Linked DNA regions of Homo sapiens: region 2 is linked to region 1. Evidence: fine-mapped expression QTL. Tissue or cell type: whole blood. Region 1 holds a variant in brackets; the other region holds the start of a gene. All regions are shown on one strand. Distances are from middle to middle.

Region 1 (8,102 bases):
AGGAAAATGAGATTGTTGCCTGAATGTGAGCTGTTTCCTTCCCCTTGCCAAAAACAAAACTGAAACACTTCATCTGGTGTTTGGGCCTCTGCTCCGCACCAGTCATTCGGGCGGCTTCCGCCTGACCGTCCATTCCAGCCTCCCAGGTTCTCCCAGGGGAGGTGCTGTGGCTGCCGGAATAGCCATGTTAACATCAGACCTCATTTATCTCATTGCAGTGTTTAATTTTCCCTCTTCCTTCAGACTACCAGGATTCTTGGAGTATTTTTCTTAGTGTAGGAGGCTTATTCTTTGTGGGAGAGTGGTCCGTCAAAAGGGAAGGTAATCCTGGACCAGAGTAAGAGTGTCACAGTCACATAAGTGGGCAGTTAGTGCCACTATTAGGTACAGAGTGGGACTCTGACTTCAGTGCCTGGCCTGGCCTGGGAGTGCTGTTTATTACATCCAGGACAGTAAGGCACACACTTCTCAGAAAATAATATCCCTCCCTCCCTCCCTTCCCCCCTCCCCCTCCCTCCCCCTTCCCTTTGTTCCTTCCTTTTTTCCTTCCTCTTGCCCTTTTCCTCTCTCCCTCAATTAATTAATGTTTATAACACATGTATTGCATGAATTCATTCTCTTGGAGGGAGGAATCCCCAAACCCTCTTGAGTGGATAGAGTGCATCTGTATATATTTGAAAAGATTCATAGATTACAAGTGAAAAATCAAAGGGCAGAGCTTTGGGCCTAGAATGACCTCAACTTTGCACCTGTGGCTTTTTTTTTTTTTTTTTTTTTGAGACAGAGTTTTACTCTGTCACCCAGACTGCAGTACAGTGGTGTGATCTTGGCTCACTGCAGCCTCCACCTCCCGGGTTCAAGTGATTCTCCTGCCTCAGCCTCCCAAGGAGCTGGGATTACAGGCATGCACAACCATGCCTGACTAATTTTTGTATTTTTGGTAGAGATGGGGTTTCACTTTGTTGGCCAGGCTGGTCTCGAACTCCTGAGCTCAGGTGATCCACCCACCTCAGGCTCTGGGATTACAGGCATGAGCCACTGTGCTCGGCCTTGCATCTGTAGCTTTTATGTGTATATTTGTGCTTGTGTTTGCAATGACTTCATACAAAGTTTTTCAAAGTGGGCGATACTGGCTGGGTGCAGTGGCTCACACCTGTAATCCCAGCACTTTGGGAGGCTGAGGTGGGCGGATCACTTGAGGCTAGGAGTTCGAGACCAGCCTGACCAACATGGTGAAACCCCGTCTCTACTAAAAATACAAAATTAGCTGGGCATGGTGGCAGGCACCTGTAGTCCCAGCTACTCAGGAGGCTGAGGCAGGAGAATCCCTTGAACCCAGGAGGCAGAGGTTGCAGTGAGTTGAGATGGTGCCACTGCACTCCAGCCTGGGCAACAGAGCGAGATTCCATCTCCAAAAAAAAAAAACCCCAAAAACCAAAAAACTAAAGTGGCGATACCATGGGAAAGGCTTTGGAATGTGTGCATTTGTGGAGTAGGTGTCATAGTTTACCTTTCTGTATTTGAATTTTTTTGATGAGCACATTATTTTTTATTTTGAAAGCTAATATTATTTATTGTAAAGACGATATGATATAGCAGAAGTGGGTTTTTTTTTTTTGGTTTTTTTTTTTGGATACAGGGTTTTGTTCTGTTGCCCAGGCTGAGGTGTAGTGGTGCGATCACAGCTCACTGCAGCCTTGACCTCCTGGGCTCAAGTGATCCTCCCACCTCAGCCTCCCAAGTAGATGGGACCACAGGTGCATGCCACTACACCTGTCTAAGTTTTTACATTTTTTGTAGACACAGGATCTCCCTATGTTGCCCAGGCTGGTCTCAAACTGGGCTCAAGGGATTTTCTCACCTTGGCCTCTCCAAGTGTTGGGATTACAGACGTGAGCCACCACACCCTGCCTGGAAAATACTTTTTAAACTTTTTACTATGGAAAATTTCAAACATAAATAAAAGTAGAAGCAGCCAGGCGCGGTGGCTCATGCCTGTAATCCCAGCACTTTGGGAGGCTGAGGTGGGCAGATCACCTGAGGTCAGGAGTTTGAGACCAGCCTGGCCAACATCATGAAACCCCATCTGCACTAAAAATACAAAAATTAGCCGGGTGTGGTGGTGGGTGCCTATAATCCTAGCTACTCAGGAGGCTGAGTCAGGAGAATCGCTTGGACTGAGGAGGCAGAGCTTGCAGTGAACTGAGATCACACCACTGCACTCCAGCCTGGGTGACAAGAGTGAAACTCCGTCTCAAAAAAAAAAAAAAAGTAGACCAGGCGCAGTGGCTTATGCCTGTAATCCCAGCACTTTGGGAGGCCGAGGCAGGCAGATCACAAGGCCAGGAGTACGAGACCAGCTTGGCCAACATAGTGAAACTCTGTCTCTACTAAAAATACACACAAAAAAATTAGCCGGGCGTGATGGTGGGTGCTTGTAGTCCCAGCTACTTGGGAGGCTGAGACAGGAGAATTGGCTGAACCCAGGAGGCAGAGGTTGCAGTAAGCCGAAATAGTGCCATTGCACTCCAGGCTGGGCAACAGAGTGAGACTCCGTCTCAAAAAAAAAAAAAAAAAAAAAAGTGGAGCCGGGCACGGTGGCTAAGGCCTGTAATCCCAGCACTTTGGGAGGCCGAGGCGGGTGGATCACGAGGTCAGGAGATCGAGACCATCCTGGCTAACATGGTGAAACCCTCTCTCTAATAAAAATACAAAAAAAAAAAAAAAAATTAGCCTAACACGGTGAAACCCCGTCTCTAATAAAAATACAAAAAAAAATTAGCCGGACATGGTGGCAGGTGCCTGTAGTCCCAGCTCCTCAGGAGGCTGAGGCAGGAGAATGGTGTGAACCCGGTAGGCGGAGCTTGCAGTAAGCCGAGATCGTGCCACTGCACTCCAGCCTGGGTGACAGAGCGAGACTCCACCTCAAAAAAAAAAAAAAAAGGGGGGGGGGCGGAGAGAATAATGGACCATCTAGCACCAGTTACCCAGCTTAAATGATAACCAGCACACATCTACTTGTCCTTCATCTTTAGCTCCCATCTTTTGGGGAAGTATTTGCAAGAAAATCTCATGCCTTGTGTCATTTCACTTGTTGACACTCCTGCATACATGTCTAATGTTTAACTGAAATGGAAATTAT[G/GA]AAAAAAAAAAAACTACTGTGGAATTAATGGAAATTGAACAAAGAAAATCTTTGTTTCATAATCTTACTGCTCAAACACAACTTATCATTTTTCCCTGGTTCATTTATTTCTTTGCCCCTTTGTATACTTATTTTTACATGATTTTAGTAATAGGGTGCATTCTATAATGTCAGAGGTTGCAGTGAGCCAAGATCGCGCCACTGCACTCCAGCCTGGGCGACAGAGACTCCATCTCAAAAAAAATAAAAACTTAACTTTGTGGTATGAATAATTTTCCATGTTGTTGTATACGCTTTATAATCACTAATCCAAATCTTAATTGGGGCATAATAGGTCCCTCATCTGAAATTATAATTTGTAAAAAAACTCCAATGTATACAAGGGAATTTTTTTAAAAGCAGAATTGTAACCTTAAAAAATAATTTTCTAAGAGGACTCCTACATTTTGCTCTGCAAAGAACATTTAAAAGGAGGTTTGTTCTTTGGAAGGTGTTTATAAACATGGCTTTGATACCAGGCAACTGAGAGAGGCGGTTGTGGCCGCTGCGGTTCCCTGAGGGCACAGAGCATGGGTGATCTGTTGGAGCCAGGCAGGGCCTGGGCAGGGGATTAATGGTGTGGCAGGGACTCTCCCTCCCCTCGGAGATGAGGAGCACTAATGACAAGGCAGCAGTAATGATGTGAACTGATAATTTATTCTAAAGACTTAACCTTCCCAGATCTGTATTTATTTCCCCAGGTACCTTTTAAAAAATTAAAATATGCTACGGCTTGAGAGATTTACCAAGACGGATGAAATCTTTGTATCTTGTTTTAAGAGGATCCACAGCTGGTTCCCGAGACTCCTTCTGGGGTACCTTGTTACGTGGGTGACTGTAATGGGTAACTGGTGCTGAATTGTGTGTGCATATGTACTTTTTTTTTTAAGTAAAGGAAAATGTGTGTAGCTGGATGGGCCTTGCCTATAGAGCACTGGGACCCTGAATCAAGAGAAATAAGGGTGGTCCTGGTTGGTGAGTCCGTTATGTACTGAAATGAGGACATGAGTGCCCAATCCACCTTCCTTTCTTTCCCTCCTCCTAAGGGCAGATGCCCCATCCATGCTTAGAGGCTCCCCTTTCCTGCCTTCCCAGGAACCCTTCTTGATCTTCCTCCCATCTCTCTAGCTGTTCTTCTCTGTCTTTCTTGCAAGGTCATCATCTATTATTAATTTTTTATTAATTTTCTTTGAGACATAGTTTCGCTCTTGTTGCCCAGGCTGGAGTACAACAGCGCGATCTCAGCTCACCACAACCTCTGCCTCCCTAGTTCAAGCGAGTCTCCTGCCTCAGCCTCCTGAGTAGCTGGGATCACAGGCATGCACCACCACACCCCGCTAATTTTGTATTTTTCGTAGAGACGGGTTTCTCCATGTTGGTCAGGCTGGTCTTGAACTCCTGACCTCAGGTGATCCGCCTGCCTTGGCCTGTCAAAGTGCTGGGATTACAGATGTGAGCCATCGTGCCTGGCCTAATTTTTATATTTTTAGTAGAAATAGGGTTTTGCCATGTTAGCAAGGCTGGTCTTGAACTCCTCACCTCAGGTGATCCACCCGTCTTGGCAAGGTCATCATCTATTTAACTGTTAAATATGGGAGTTTCCTATTATTCCATCCTCTTCTTCCATGATCTCATCTCTGTTTCACCTTCCTCTCTATGCAAACCACCGTGTGCAGGTGAGCCACAGATTTGAATCACTTCTGAGCTCTCTTCCCACGTATCTGACGACTCTCTTGGTGTTTCCCTGTGGTGTTCCCTGACAGGTGTTTCCCTGTCAGAAGCACCTCAACATGTGCAAGTCACCTCCTCAGACTTGGTCCTGTTCCCGTATTCTGTATTTCATCATATAGAGCCTCTATTTGTCCAGTTAAGTGCTTTAGAATCCCAGGAGCCGTCTTCGATACCCGACCCCTCTTGCCCACCCCGTTTTCTAATCTCTTTTCAGATTATCTTGATTTTTACTTTTGCAAGTCTGCCCACTTCTTCAGCTCCACTTCTGCTCTAGTCCTTTCCTGGCTGCCAAAATTTTCATCTGCAGCCTCCTGTCTGCTCTGCCTGTTTCTGTCCTTCCTTTCCTCCGGCTTGTTTTCCACACCAAAGCCAGAATGATTATTAATCCAGCAAGGCTGATCTTGTCACACCTCAGTTAAAAAACCCTTTAGCACTGTGCAGTGGCTCTTAGGTTACAGAAAAACTCTCTAACACAGCATGTCACAAGGCATTGCAATGTCCAGTGACCACTCAGTCCTCCCACCCATTTGGATCTCATTCCAGTCCAGCCCCGTTCATCTCTGCCCACTTTCCTGAATGCACCCAGCTCATTGTGCCACAGGACCTTTGCACACAACATTTCCCCTGCCTGGATGGTCTTCCTCCCTGCCCTGCCCTACCCTGCTAGCTGTCTTCTTGAAACTTAGATGACAGTTATCAGTTTCTCAAGAAACTTTTCCTGATGTCCTGACCAGGCCAAGCATCTGGCTGCTCAGGGGACCATATGTTAATATCTCTTGCATGAAACCTTTTCTTACAGTTGCAACTTTACATTTCCTTGTTACTTCCACTTCTCCCACTGAATTAATTGTAACGTTCCTAAAAGCAGGGACAACGTCTGTTTCCATTTTCCATGATAACATAGCTTCAAGCACTGTCTGGAAGATAGTGGGCACCCAGCAAATGTTACTTGAACCTCCTGGGTTCAAGTAATCCTCTTGTCTCAGCCTCCTGAGTAGCTGGGACCATAGGCACACGCCACTGCGCCCAGCTAATTTTTTTTTTTTTTTCAGATAGAGTCTAACTCTTTCACCTAAGCTGGAATGCAGTGGCGCGATGTTGGGTCATTGCAGCGTTCGCCTCCTGGATTCAAGTGATTCTCCTGCCTCAGCCACCCAAGTAGCTGGGATTACAGGCACATGCCACCATGCCTGGCTAGTTTTTGTATTTTTAGTAGAGATGGGGTTTCACCACATTGCCTAGGTGGGTCTTGAACTCCAGCGCTCAGGCGATCTCTCTGCCTTGGCCTCCCAAAGAGCTGGGATTACAGGCGACAACCACCATGCCCGGCCTAGTTTTTTTCTGTTTTATAGAGATGAGGGTCTCACTTTGTTGCCCAGGCTGGTCCCAAACTGGTCTCAAGCCATCCTCCTGCCTCGGCCTCCCAAAGTGTTGGGATTACAGGGATGAGCCACTGTGCCCAGCCCAGGAAATGTTTCCTGAATGAATGAACAAGAAACAGAGAAAAAGTTTGTAAACTGGCTTTGTAAAAATGAGGCTATTTTCTCTAGAAGAGTTCATACAACCCTCAGGAGACCAAAACTTTAATTTAGCAATGATAAAGGGTAGATTCCCAGCGGTAGTAGCCCAAAGAAGAGACTGCAAGACCAAGCCAGAGTTCTCATTACATTCTGGGTTCTGGGTAAGACCCTGCCAGAGTGTGAGTGTTGGGGGGCCGCGGGGAGGTGGAGTAAGCAGAGTCAGCATTGGTGCCCCAACAGGAATACCAGTGTTCACTGTTGGCCTAGCTGGGTAGAAGAGACTTTCTGTTGTTAGGCTCTGGCTAAGGTTGGAAGCCGAAGAGCCATCGTAACAGTAAATCCTGGAATCATCTGGCTTCCTTTACTGCAAAGGAAATGTGAAAGAGCCTTCTCTCTAGACCTGGGGTGGACTCCAGCCTGTGTGTGTCTGAGTTTCAGGGAACTGGGGAATGGAAAGGAGACTGTTTACTCTCTGCCCTTCTGGAATTTCCCCCGGTTCCCTTCCTCTGTGTACCAGTGTTTGCAGTTATGTGTAGAATGAACACGGGCCTGTTAATGAAGTGCTGCTTACTCTCACCCGCTTTTGATGGGCCTATGGGATTGAGGGCAGAGGGAGGCAGGAAGAAGGAGGCTTGTTTCACTAAGCAGGTCTTATGTTAATGGCCAAATCAGTCACATCTTCATCGGGCTTCAGAGACTCTTAATCCTGGCGTCCTTGGCCTCCCTTTAAAAAATTCTCCTTTCTTTCTTGTTTCATGTTTCTCAAATTTCCAGGTAAATCCTATCATTTGTATTCTGAATTAGGAACCAAAAGAAAACAGAACTATTTTTCCTTTGACATGCACATACATTTCGGTGGTATGGGGTGGGGAGGGACAATAATGAGAAAATACCCCAAACTAGAAAGTTCTTTCGTACATTTGCTGTGAAACTCTCCAGGCAAGAGTTCTGGATTTTGTAACGGAATTGCATTATAGTAGCATGGTCTGGCAGTTACAGTTTATGTAGTTTTTTTTCTTTTGTTGGAATAAGGACGGCAATTTCCATGCCCTATTTATCTATATTTATTAGTACCACATGCAAACAACATATTTTTAAAAATCCAGGTCAAGAAAGGGAAAAAGTAACTCTTAGAAAAATATGACTCATCCTTGCTGCACGTACAAACTCTTCTCAATAGGAAATTATTAACTTGAAGCCACTTGCAAATCTGAGGCTTTGAAGGGAGGAAAAATAAGAGTGAGAGTTATTCCCCAAACAGCTTGACTGATGTGTCTTCTACCTTTTTATATTTTAAACTATATTTTGTCAAATTCTTGCAAGTTTTTATTGTTATAGTTGCTGTTAGTACCTTAGGCATGCTGGCATGGAAAAAAACAAAACCTTTTTTTTTTTTTTTTTTTTTGAGACAGTGTCACTCTGTCACCCAGGCTGGAGTGCAGTACCCTGATCTCAGCTCACTGCAGCCTTGACCTCCTGGGCACAAGCGATTATTCCGCCTCAGCCCCCCAAGTAGTTGGGAGTATAGGCAGGTACCACCACGCCCAGCTAATTTTTGTGTTTTTAATAGAGGCAGGGTTTCACCATGTTGCCCAGGCGGGTCTCGAACTCCTGAGCTCAAGCGAACCATCTGCCTCGGCCTCCCAAAGTGCTAGGATTACAGGTGTGAG
Region 2 (8,102 bases), 66 kb before region 1:
TTTGCTTCTCCAAGTTAAAAGTTTTATTACTCTGCATTTTTGCACCCTCAACTTCGATTGAAGACAGCAAAGTGCCTCCCACTTCCCTCTAACCTGGACTTCTCCTCTACCGACTGGTCTCTCCTCGGAGTAACGGCGACGCTACACGGCCTCTCCCGTCCCGAGAAAAGCTTTTTTTTGTTTTGTTTTGTTTTGAGACGGAGTCTTGCTCTGTCGCCCAGTCTGGAGTGCAGTGGCGCGATCTCAACTCACTGCAAGCTCCCCCTCCCGGGTTCACGCCATTCCCCTGCCTCGGCCACCCAAGTAGCTGGGACTACAGGCGCCCGCCACCATGCCCGACTTTTTTTGTATTTTTAGTAGAGACAGGATTTCACCGTATTAGCCAGGATGGTCTCGATCTCCTGACCTCGTGGTCCACCCGCCTCGGCCTCCCAAAGTGCTGGGATTACAGGCGTGAGCCACCGCGCCCGGCCAAGATAGGTACTGTTTTACAGACAAGGGATAGCTAACTAAAGCCACTAGGTGTAGCTGACATGGTCAGTAAGTGGTGAAAATAACGTAACACCCAGACAAACTGATTCAGAGCCACTTTTTTCTCTCTTCTCTTCTTTTTTCTTTCCTTTCCTTTTCTCTCTCTCTCTTTCTTTCTTTCTTTCTTTTTTTTTTTTTTGAGACACGGTCTCTCTCTGTTGCCCAGGCTGGTGTGCAGTGGCATGATCATAGTTCACTGCAACCTTGAACTCCCAGGCTCAAGTGAGCCTCCTACCTCAGCCTCTCGAGTAGCTGGCACCACAGGCCCACACCACCATGCCCAGCTAGTTTTTTCATTTTTACTTTTGTAGAGATGAGAGTCTCATCATGTTGCCCAGGCTGGTCTGAAACTCCCAGGTTCAAGCAGTCCTTTAGCCTTGGCCTCCCAAAGTGCTGGGATTACAGGTGTGAGACACGGTGCTGTCCCTGAGCCACCTAATTATCCATTCTGTTATACTGACTGCTGCTTATGTGCCTTCACTTCATTTTGAGCAACGTGGGGCCAGAGTCTGTCTAATTTGTCTTAATAGTCTCACCCCACCTCCCTAAGCAACACACATAATTTGGTAGCAAATAATTCCTTGCTGAATTGAACAGAAGGTGTATTTAGTGACTTCTACGTTTCCTTGCAAATCTGAAATTTTATGATTATAAGATCCGGTGAATTTTGCTGAATGTCGACTTGGGTCTTCATGCAAACTTTCTTCATGAAGTCTTCACGCCAGCTGGATTCCTCAATTGTCATTTATCTGTCCTACCCCAAAAATCCTTCAGTGCTACTGAATATTGCCTTTCAGCAATTACCCAAATTCAGTCTTTCTCTTTTTTTGGGGTGGCGGGAAGGGGACTGAGTTTTGCTCTCGTCGCCCAGGCTGGAGCACAGTGGTGCGATCTCAGCTCACTGCCACCTCTGCCTCCCAGGTTCAACAATTCTCCTGCCTCAGCCTCCTGTGTAGCTGAGATTATGGGTGCCCGCCACCACGCCTGGCTAATTTTTGTATTTTTAGTACAGATGGGGTTTCACCATATTGGCCAGATGGTCTCGAACTCCTGATGTACGGTGATCCACCTGCCTTGGCCTCCCAAAGTGCTAGAATTACAGGCGTGAGCCATTGCACCTGGCTCAACCTTTCTCACCACTCAGTCTCTTCATTATCTAGAACGTGCCTGTGCTACCTGCCGTAACAGAGTATGGCTGGAGGCTATTTCTCATTTTCTAGTTTATCATATCAATTTTTTTTTTTTGAGACAGAGTCTCACCCTGTCATCCAGGCTGGAGTCCAGTGTGCAATCTTGGCTCACTGCAACCTCCGCCTCCCAGGTTCAAGCGATTCTCAAGCCTCAGGCTCCTGATTAGCTGGGACTACGGGTGTGTGCCACCATGCCCAGCTAATATTTGTATTTTTTGTAGAGATGGGTTTTCACCATGTTGCCCAGTCTGATCTCGAGCCCCTGACAGTCTGATCTGCCCGCCTTGGCCTCCCAAAGTACTGGGATTACAGGTGCCAGCCACCGCACCCTGTCAGATTTTATTCTTTTAATGTGCAGTGTGTGCTCTTTGCTTGTCCCTTCTCCCCTTTGGTGAACACTTACTCAGATGCCACTAAATCTTTTCTGCAGGGTTGTTAAAAAAAAGCAACAAAAGATAAAAAATGAAATATGAAAGAAGAAAACAAACCGAAACCAACAAATGCTAGTAAGTCAAGGAAATAGTCTCTAATTTATCTAGAACAGAATTAGTAAAACTGCCATCAATGGAACTGGAGAAGTTTTAGTTATAGTAGTTTTATAAATGAGACTAATATAGGGTTTAATGTACAAAGACAGGACTGTATCTCCTTGAAAGTTAATCTCTTGGATTTGGAGTGGTACTACAAAAAGTAGAGACTAAGTGTTCAACCTATTTATTTATTTAGATACAGAGTCTCACTCTGTCGCCCAGGCTGGAGTGCAGAGGCGTTATCATGGCTCACTGCCACCTCCGCCTCCCGGGTTCAAGCAATTCTCCTGCCTCAGGTTCTGGAGTACCTGGGATTACCCGCACCCGGACCATGCCCGGCGAATCTTTTTTTTTTTTTTTTTTGTAGTTTTAGTAGAGATGGGGTTTCACCAGGTTGGCCAAGTGGGTTTCGAACTCCCGACCTCAGGTAATCCACCTGCCTCTGCCTCCCAAAGTGCTGGGATTACAGGCGTGAGCCTCCACGCCCCACCAGCCAATTTAATTTGTATGCATGATAGAATCCATCCCAATTCGAAGACCCAAAAATAACAGATTAGTACAAGTCTTTGAGGCTAATTACGTCATTAGTATTAATTTTAATCAATGGTGATTAAACTGAGCCTTCATTCAACTTGTCCAGAACATCAGTCAAGAATGTCTATTTAAAATGTTCTTGGAGGCCGGGCGCATTGGCTCACGCCTATAATCTGAGCACTTTGGGAGGCCAAGGCAGGTGGATCATCTGAGGTTAGGAGTTTGAGACCAGCCTGGCCAACATGGTGAAACCCCATCTCTATTAAAAATACAAAAATTAGCCAGGCATGGTGGTGGGTGCCTGTAGTCCCAGCTACTCAGGAGGCTGAGGAAGGAGAATTGCTTGAACCTGGGAGGCAGAGGTTGCAGTGAGCCAAGATTGAGCCACTGCACTCCTGCCTGGGCTACAAGAGTGAAACTCTGTCTCAAGCAAGCAAATAAATAAATAAATAAATAAATAAATAAAGTTATTGGGCAGGCACAGTGGCATTCGCCTGTAGTCTCAGCTACTTGGGAGGCTGAAGCAAGAGGACTGCTTGAAGCTGGGAGTTCGAGCCCAGCCAAAGCAACCTATCCAGACCCATCTCTTAAAAAAAATATTTCTCTGCCAGGTGCGGTGGTTCATGCCTGTAATCCCAGCACTTTGGGAGGCCAAGGTGGGCGGATCATTTGAAGTCAGGTGTTCGAGACCAGACTGGTCAACATGGAGGAACCCTGTCTCTACTAAAAATGCAAAAATTAGCCAGGCGTGGTGGTGCACGCCTGTAATCCCAGCTACTCGGGAGGCTGAGGCAGGAGAATTGCATGAACCGGCGAGACGGAGGTTGCAGTCAGCTGAGACTGCACCACTGCACTCCAGCCTGGGCGACAGAGCGAGGCTCCATCTCAAAAAAAAAAAAAAAAATATCATCTATCTATCCACCTACCTACCTACCTACCTACCTGGATTATAATTCATTAAGTTCTCTGTGCCCTGTAGTTGTAGATTAAGGGAATGCGATTGGATTAGTGTGGAGGGGCTTTTTATGGAGCCAAGCAGGAGTTTTTAAGCTTTTGTACTTTTGCTTCATGTCACAAGGACAGATGCCCCACAAAGGCTGAGATGTTTGTGGTCCTGGATCTTAGAACAGTGCCTGGCACATAATAGGCATAAGGTTGCCAGGAAATAGAAATACAGATACTCAATTCAATTTGATCTTCAGATAATCAAAAAATACTTTTTTTAGTATAAATATGTCCCATTCTGTATTTGGGACATACATATTACACTGTTGTTTATCTGAAATTCAAATTTAAGTGGGTGTCCTGTACTTTATCTGGCAACCCTACTAAAGGAGCTCAATTAAGTATTTGCTGACTTAACAGTCTGAAGGTCTCGTTTCACCTGTAAAATGGGGCTAGTACCTGTCCCTGCCTCTATAAGGTTGATGGGCAGAGTAGGTGGCATTCAGTGAGCCCTCAATTTATTTGATTGCCTGGGACCATCCGGTGAGCAGAAACCCTTCCACTTTCAACTACAGAGACGATAAAAAGGCCTCCTCGAGGCCAGAGGTGCCCAGGCCAGGCCTAGGTGGCCCGCACCTGCGAGCCTGGCCAGCCTCTTCCGGGTCAGGTGACCGCGCGCGGTCACGTGACCCGGCCCGAGTGCGGGCGGTGGAAGGCGGAAGTAGGAGAGGAGTTCGGCGCCGCTTCTGTGGCCACGGCAGGTAGCGAGCGCTGGCGCGGGGGGCGCGGTGGGCTGGCTGCCTGCACGGGGCGGGCCGGGGGCGGCGGGCGGCGCGGGGTGGGCCGGGGGCGGCGCGGCCCGGGCGTCGGGGGGCGGCGGCTTCCTGTGGGAGGGGCCTGGCGCGGCGGTTCCGGCCTCCGAGGAGGGGTGTCCCGGCTCCCGCCCGAGTGGGGTGGGCGCGCCGCGGCCCGCGCGGGGGTTGCTCCGAAATGGGTGCCCCGGCCGCCAAGGGTGCAGCTGGAGCGAGTCCTCCCGGAAGGGGAGAGGAGCTTAGGTTCCCAGGCATGGAGAGGAGCGATCTTTGTGGAGGGATCGGGACCAGGGGAAGGGGCGACTTGGAACTGAGCTGGAAGGGGGTGCCTGAAAATGGGTTTATGGCGTGGAGCCAGAGGGAAAAAGATGCTGCCTGGACCCCCTCTGAGAGTCTCTCCCTTCCTTCCTGTTTGGAAATGATTGTTACCCGAGACTTTGATGACGGTCCCATTCAGTTTTTAAACTTCAGGAGGGATCACAGAATCTTGATCGTCTTGCTTCCCTCGCGCCCACTTAGTCCTGCGTGGGTAGGGTTTCCACTTCTTGGGAGCCTAGCCCTTCAGCTCATTTTTCTTTGAGATTTTCCCTGAACGGGCCATCATCGAGGCTTTAAAAAACAAAAAAAGAAAATAAATTAAAAAAATAAGTGTGGGCACTTTGCCTGTAAAATGGCTTTTAGCTTACACTGTTGACCTAGCCCAGCGTTACCTCAGCAACATAGTGACTGCTGAAATCTTGGACAGAGAAGTGTCTACCTAGACTGCTTTATGACTTTTCTCTTTCTTCCGTTTAAATTATTCAGTTTCCCTTAGCTTATCTTGTGACTGCTTATCTTGACGAACTGTAACTAGGTAGGGTGCCTGAGAGGTCTGTGTTATGTTCCTTAGAACTGTGACCTGGATCATGATTTTGAGATTGAATACTTGTGTTAAAGCCTGTTCATCTTCCTGTTTCTCATGTTTACTAAAATTTGCAGAAGCAAAAGGAGTTTCATGAGTGCAGTGTAACTGGAACGAATGTTCAAACTGGACATTCACAGCAGCCAGCATCGTTTTGGGTTACAAGTAGGAAAAAGTACTTTCCTAATGTATTATGAGTTCAAGTTTTTGGAGTTATTTGACAAACATTTAAAAATTAGTTTTTGCAGCAGCGCCTATGAGTGAGGTTGGGAAGATGTATTCTCATTTCACAGGGAACAAACAGACTTACGAGAGACGACTTGATTTTTTAAAACAATTTATTGCTCTTTCTTGTTTGCTGGCCTCTTCCTGCTAGATTGCAAATCCTTCAAGGGCAGGTTTCATATTTTATTTGGCTGCTAGCCTAGTGCCTGGCATGTTGTGAGCACTTGATAAATATTTGGTGAATAAATGCATTTCTAAAAGTCACACCGGCGTAAGTGGTGACAAAGGATTTGAACCCAAGTCTTCTACTCTTTTTCTTGTCAGAGAAGCTTGTGATTATCTGTGTCATTGGTCCATATGAAAACAGGCTCGAGAGAAAGGCTTGGATTGGCTTCTCAGTCTCTTTCACTTCATGATTACTTTCCCATTTACAAAGAGCGTATACCAACATCTCACTTAACCTTCCCTTTGAAATTGGGATGGTCAGTATTGTCCCTATATCACATGAAGAGACTGAGGCTTAATGAAGTCCTTACTTTAGATTTCAGAGCTAGTAAATGAGTAGGGACTCAAGCCCAGACCCTTAATCCTTAGATCCATTCTTTTTCATTTATTGACACAATAGAAAATTTTATTTTTATTTTATTTTGAGACAGGATCTTACTCTGTTGCCCAGGCTGGAGTGCAGTGGCACAATCACGGCTCACTGTAACCTTGACCTGCCTGGGCTCGGGTGATCCTCCCATGTCTGCCTCCCAAACAGCTGGGACTACAGGTGGGTGCCACCTCGCCTGGCTAATTTTTGTAGAGACAGGGGTTTTGCTATGTTGCCCGGGCTGTTTTCAAACTCCGGGGCTCAAGCGATCCTCCCACCTCGGCCTCTCAAAGTGTTGCAATTACAGGTGTAAGTCACCATGCCCAACTGAAAGTTTTATTTTTACATAATTTTTCAGGAATAAAAAGTGTAACATTTTAAGGAAAAAGATCACACAGAAAAAGTTGTGAATGTAGAATGTGAGTAAATGAAGTTTAGAAAACGCTGTACTCTACCATAGCTTCCTCTTCCTGGGAAAACATTCTTTCATTCAGTGAATATTTATAAGTACCCACTCTGTCTTTGCCAGGCATTGTTGTAGAGTCCAGTATGGTGTACACTAGCCACATGGGGCTGCTGAGCACTGGAGCTATGCTGTGAGCATAAAATACATTCTGGATTTTGAAGACTTAGCATGAAGAAAAGTAAAATGTCTCATTGATACTTTTTATGTTATAGTAAACGATCATATAATGTATAAACATGTATGATAACATTTTGGATTTATTGGGTTAAATACAACGTAATTATAAATAGTTGGTCAGACATGGTGGCTCATGCCTATAATTCCAGCACTTTGGGAGGTCAAGGTGGATAGATTGCTTGAGCCCAGGAATTTGGGACCAGCCTGGGCAACATGGTGAAACCCTGTCTCTACAAAAAATACAAAAATTAGCCAGGTGCAGTGGCGCCCGCCTGGCTACTCAGGAGGCTGAGGTGGGAGGATCACCCAAGCCTGGGGAGGTGGAGGCTGCAGTGAGTTGTGATCGTGCCACTCATTGCACTCTAGCCTAGGTGACAGAGTGAGACCCTGTCTCAAAAAAAAGAAAAAGAAAAAGAAAAAAAGTTTCACCTTTTTGTCTTTTTTTTTCCCACTTAACCTTGACTTGAAACCCAGCACTTTTTTCTTTTTAAAATGTATTTCCTAGAAAAATAAAAAATTATAAATGTGGCTTGCACTTGTGGCTCCCATCTTATTTCTATTGGACAAACCTGTTCTGAATGCCAGGAATATAGCAGTACAAGAAAGGTAAGGATCCCCACCCTTGTGGATCTTCAATTTTATTAGAGAAGGGCACATTGATAACTAAGTATAATATGTATTATGTTGTAATAAAGCAGGGAAGAGGGATGTAGGTTGCAGTTTAAATAGGATCCTGGCCAGGTGCGGTGGCTCACGCCTGTAATTCCAGAACTTTTGGAGGCTGAGACGGGCGGATCACTTGAGGTCAGGATTTCAAGACCAGCCTGACCAACATGGTGAAACCCCATCTCTACCCAAAATACAAAAATTAGCTGGGCTTGTTGGCACATGTGTCTAATTCCAGCTACTCGGGAGGCTGAGGCACGAGAATTGCTTGAGCTCGGGAGATGGAGGTTGCAGTGAACCAAGATCGCGCCACTGCACTCCAGCCTAGGTGATGAAGTGAGACTCCGTCTTGCTTTTGGAGAGATGGGGAGTTGGGGGCGGGGGTTCTCACTTTTGCCCAGGCTGGTCTTGAACACTTGGCCTCAAGACATCCTCCTGCCTCAGCCTCCGAAAGTGCTGAGATTACAGGCATGAACCATTGCACCTGGCTCAGTCTCTTAACTCTAAATACTATCCACATGCTAACAGCT

What was found. PIP is the estimated chance that this variant, and not a neighbour inherited with it, causes the effect.
Region 2: it holds the start of WWP2, and the variant in region 1 is fine-mapped to the expression of WWP2 in whole blood (INTERVAL, PIP 0.97).

What each region holds. Positions count from the first base shown.
Region 1 is chr16:69,824,012-69,832,113 of GRCh38, forward strand. The region is part of intron 4 of WWP2 (WW domain containing E3 ubiquitin protein ligase 2); the gene reads left to right. Among named protein-coding and RNA genes, the nearest start is that of WWP2, 66 kb to the left of the region's middle. RefSeq lists enhancers at 180-279, 290-359. The variant G/GA (reference allele first, on the strand shown) is at 3,143.
Region 2 is chr16:69,757,901-69,766,002 of GRCh38, forward strand. WWP2 (WW domain containing E3 ubiquitin protein ligase 2) reads left to right here and starts at 4,432. Exons shown (of 24, transcript NM_001270454.2): 1 at 4,432-4,491. It also overlaps the pseudogene NONOP1. RefSeq lists an enhancer at 4,237-4,815 and silencers at 4,519-4,658, 4,679-4,838, 4,859-4,908.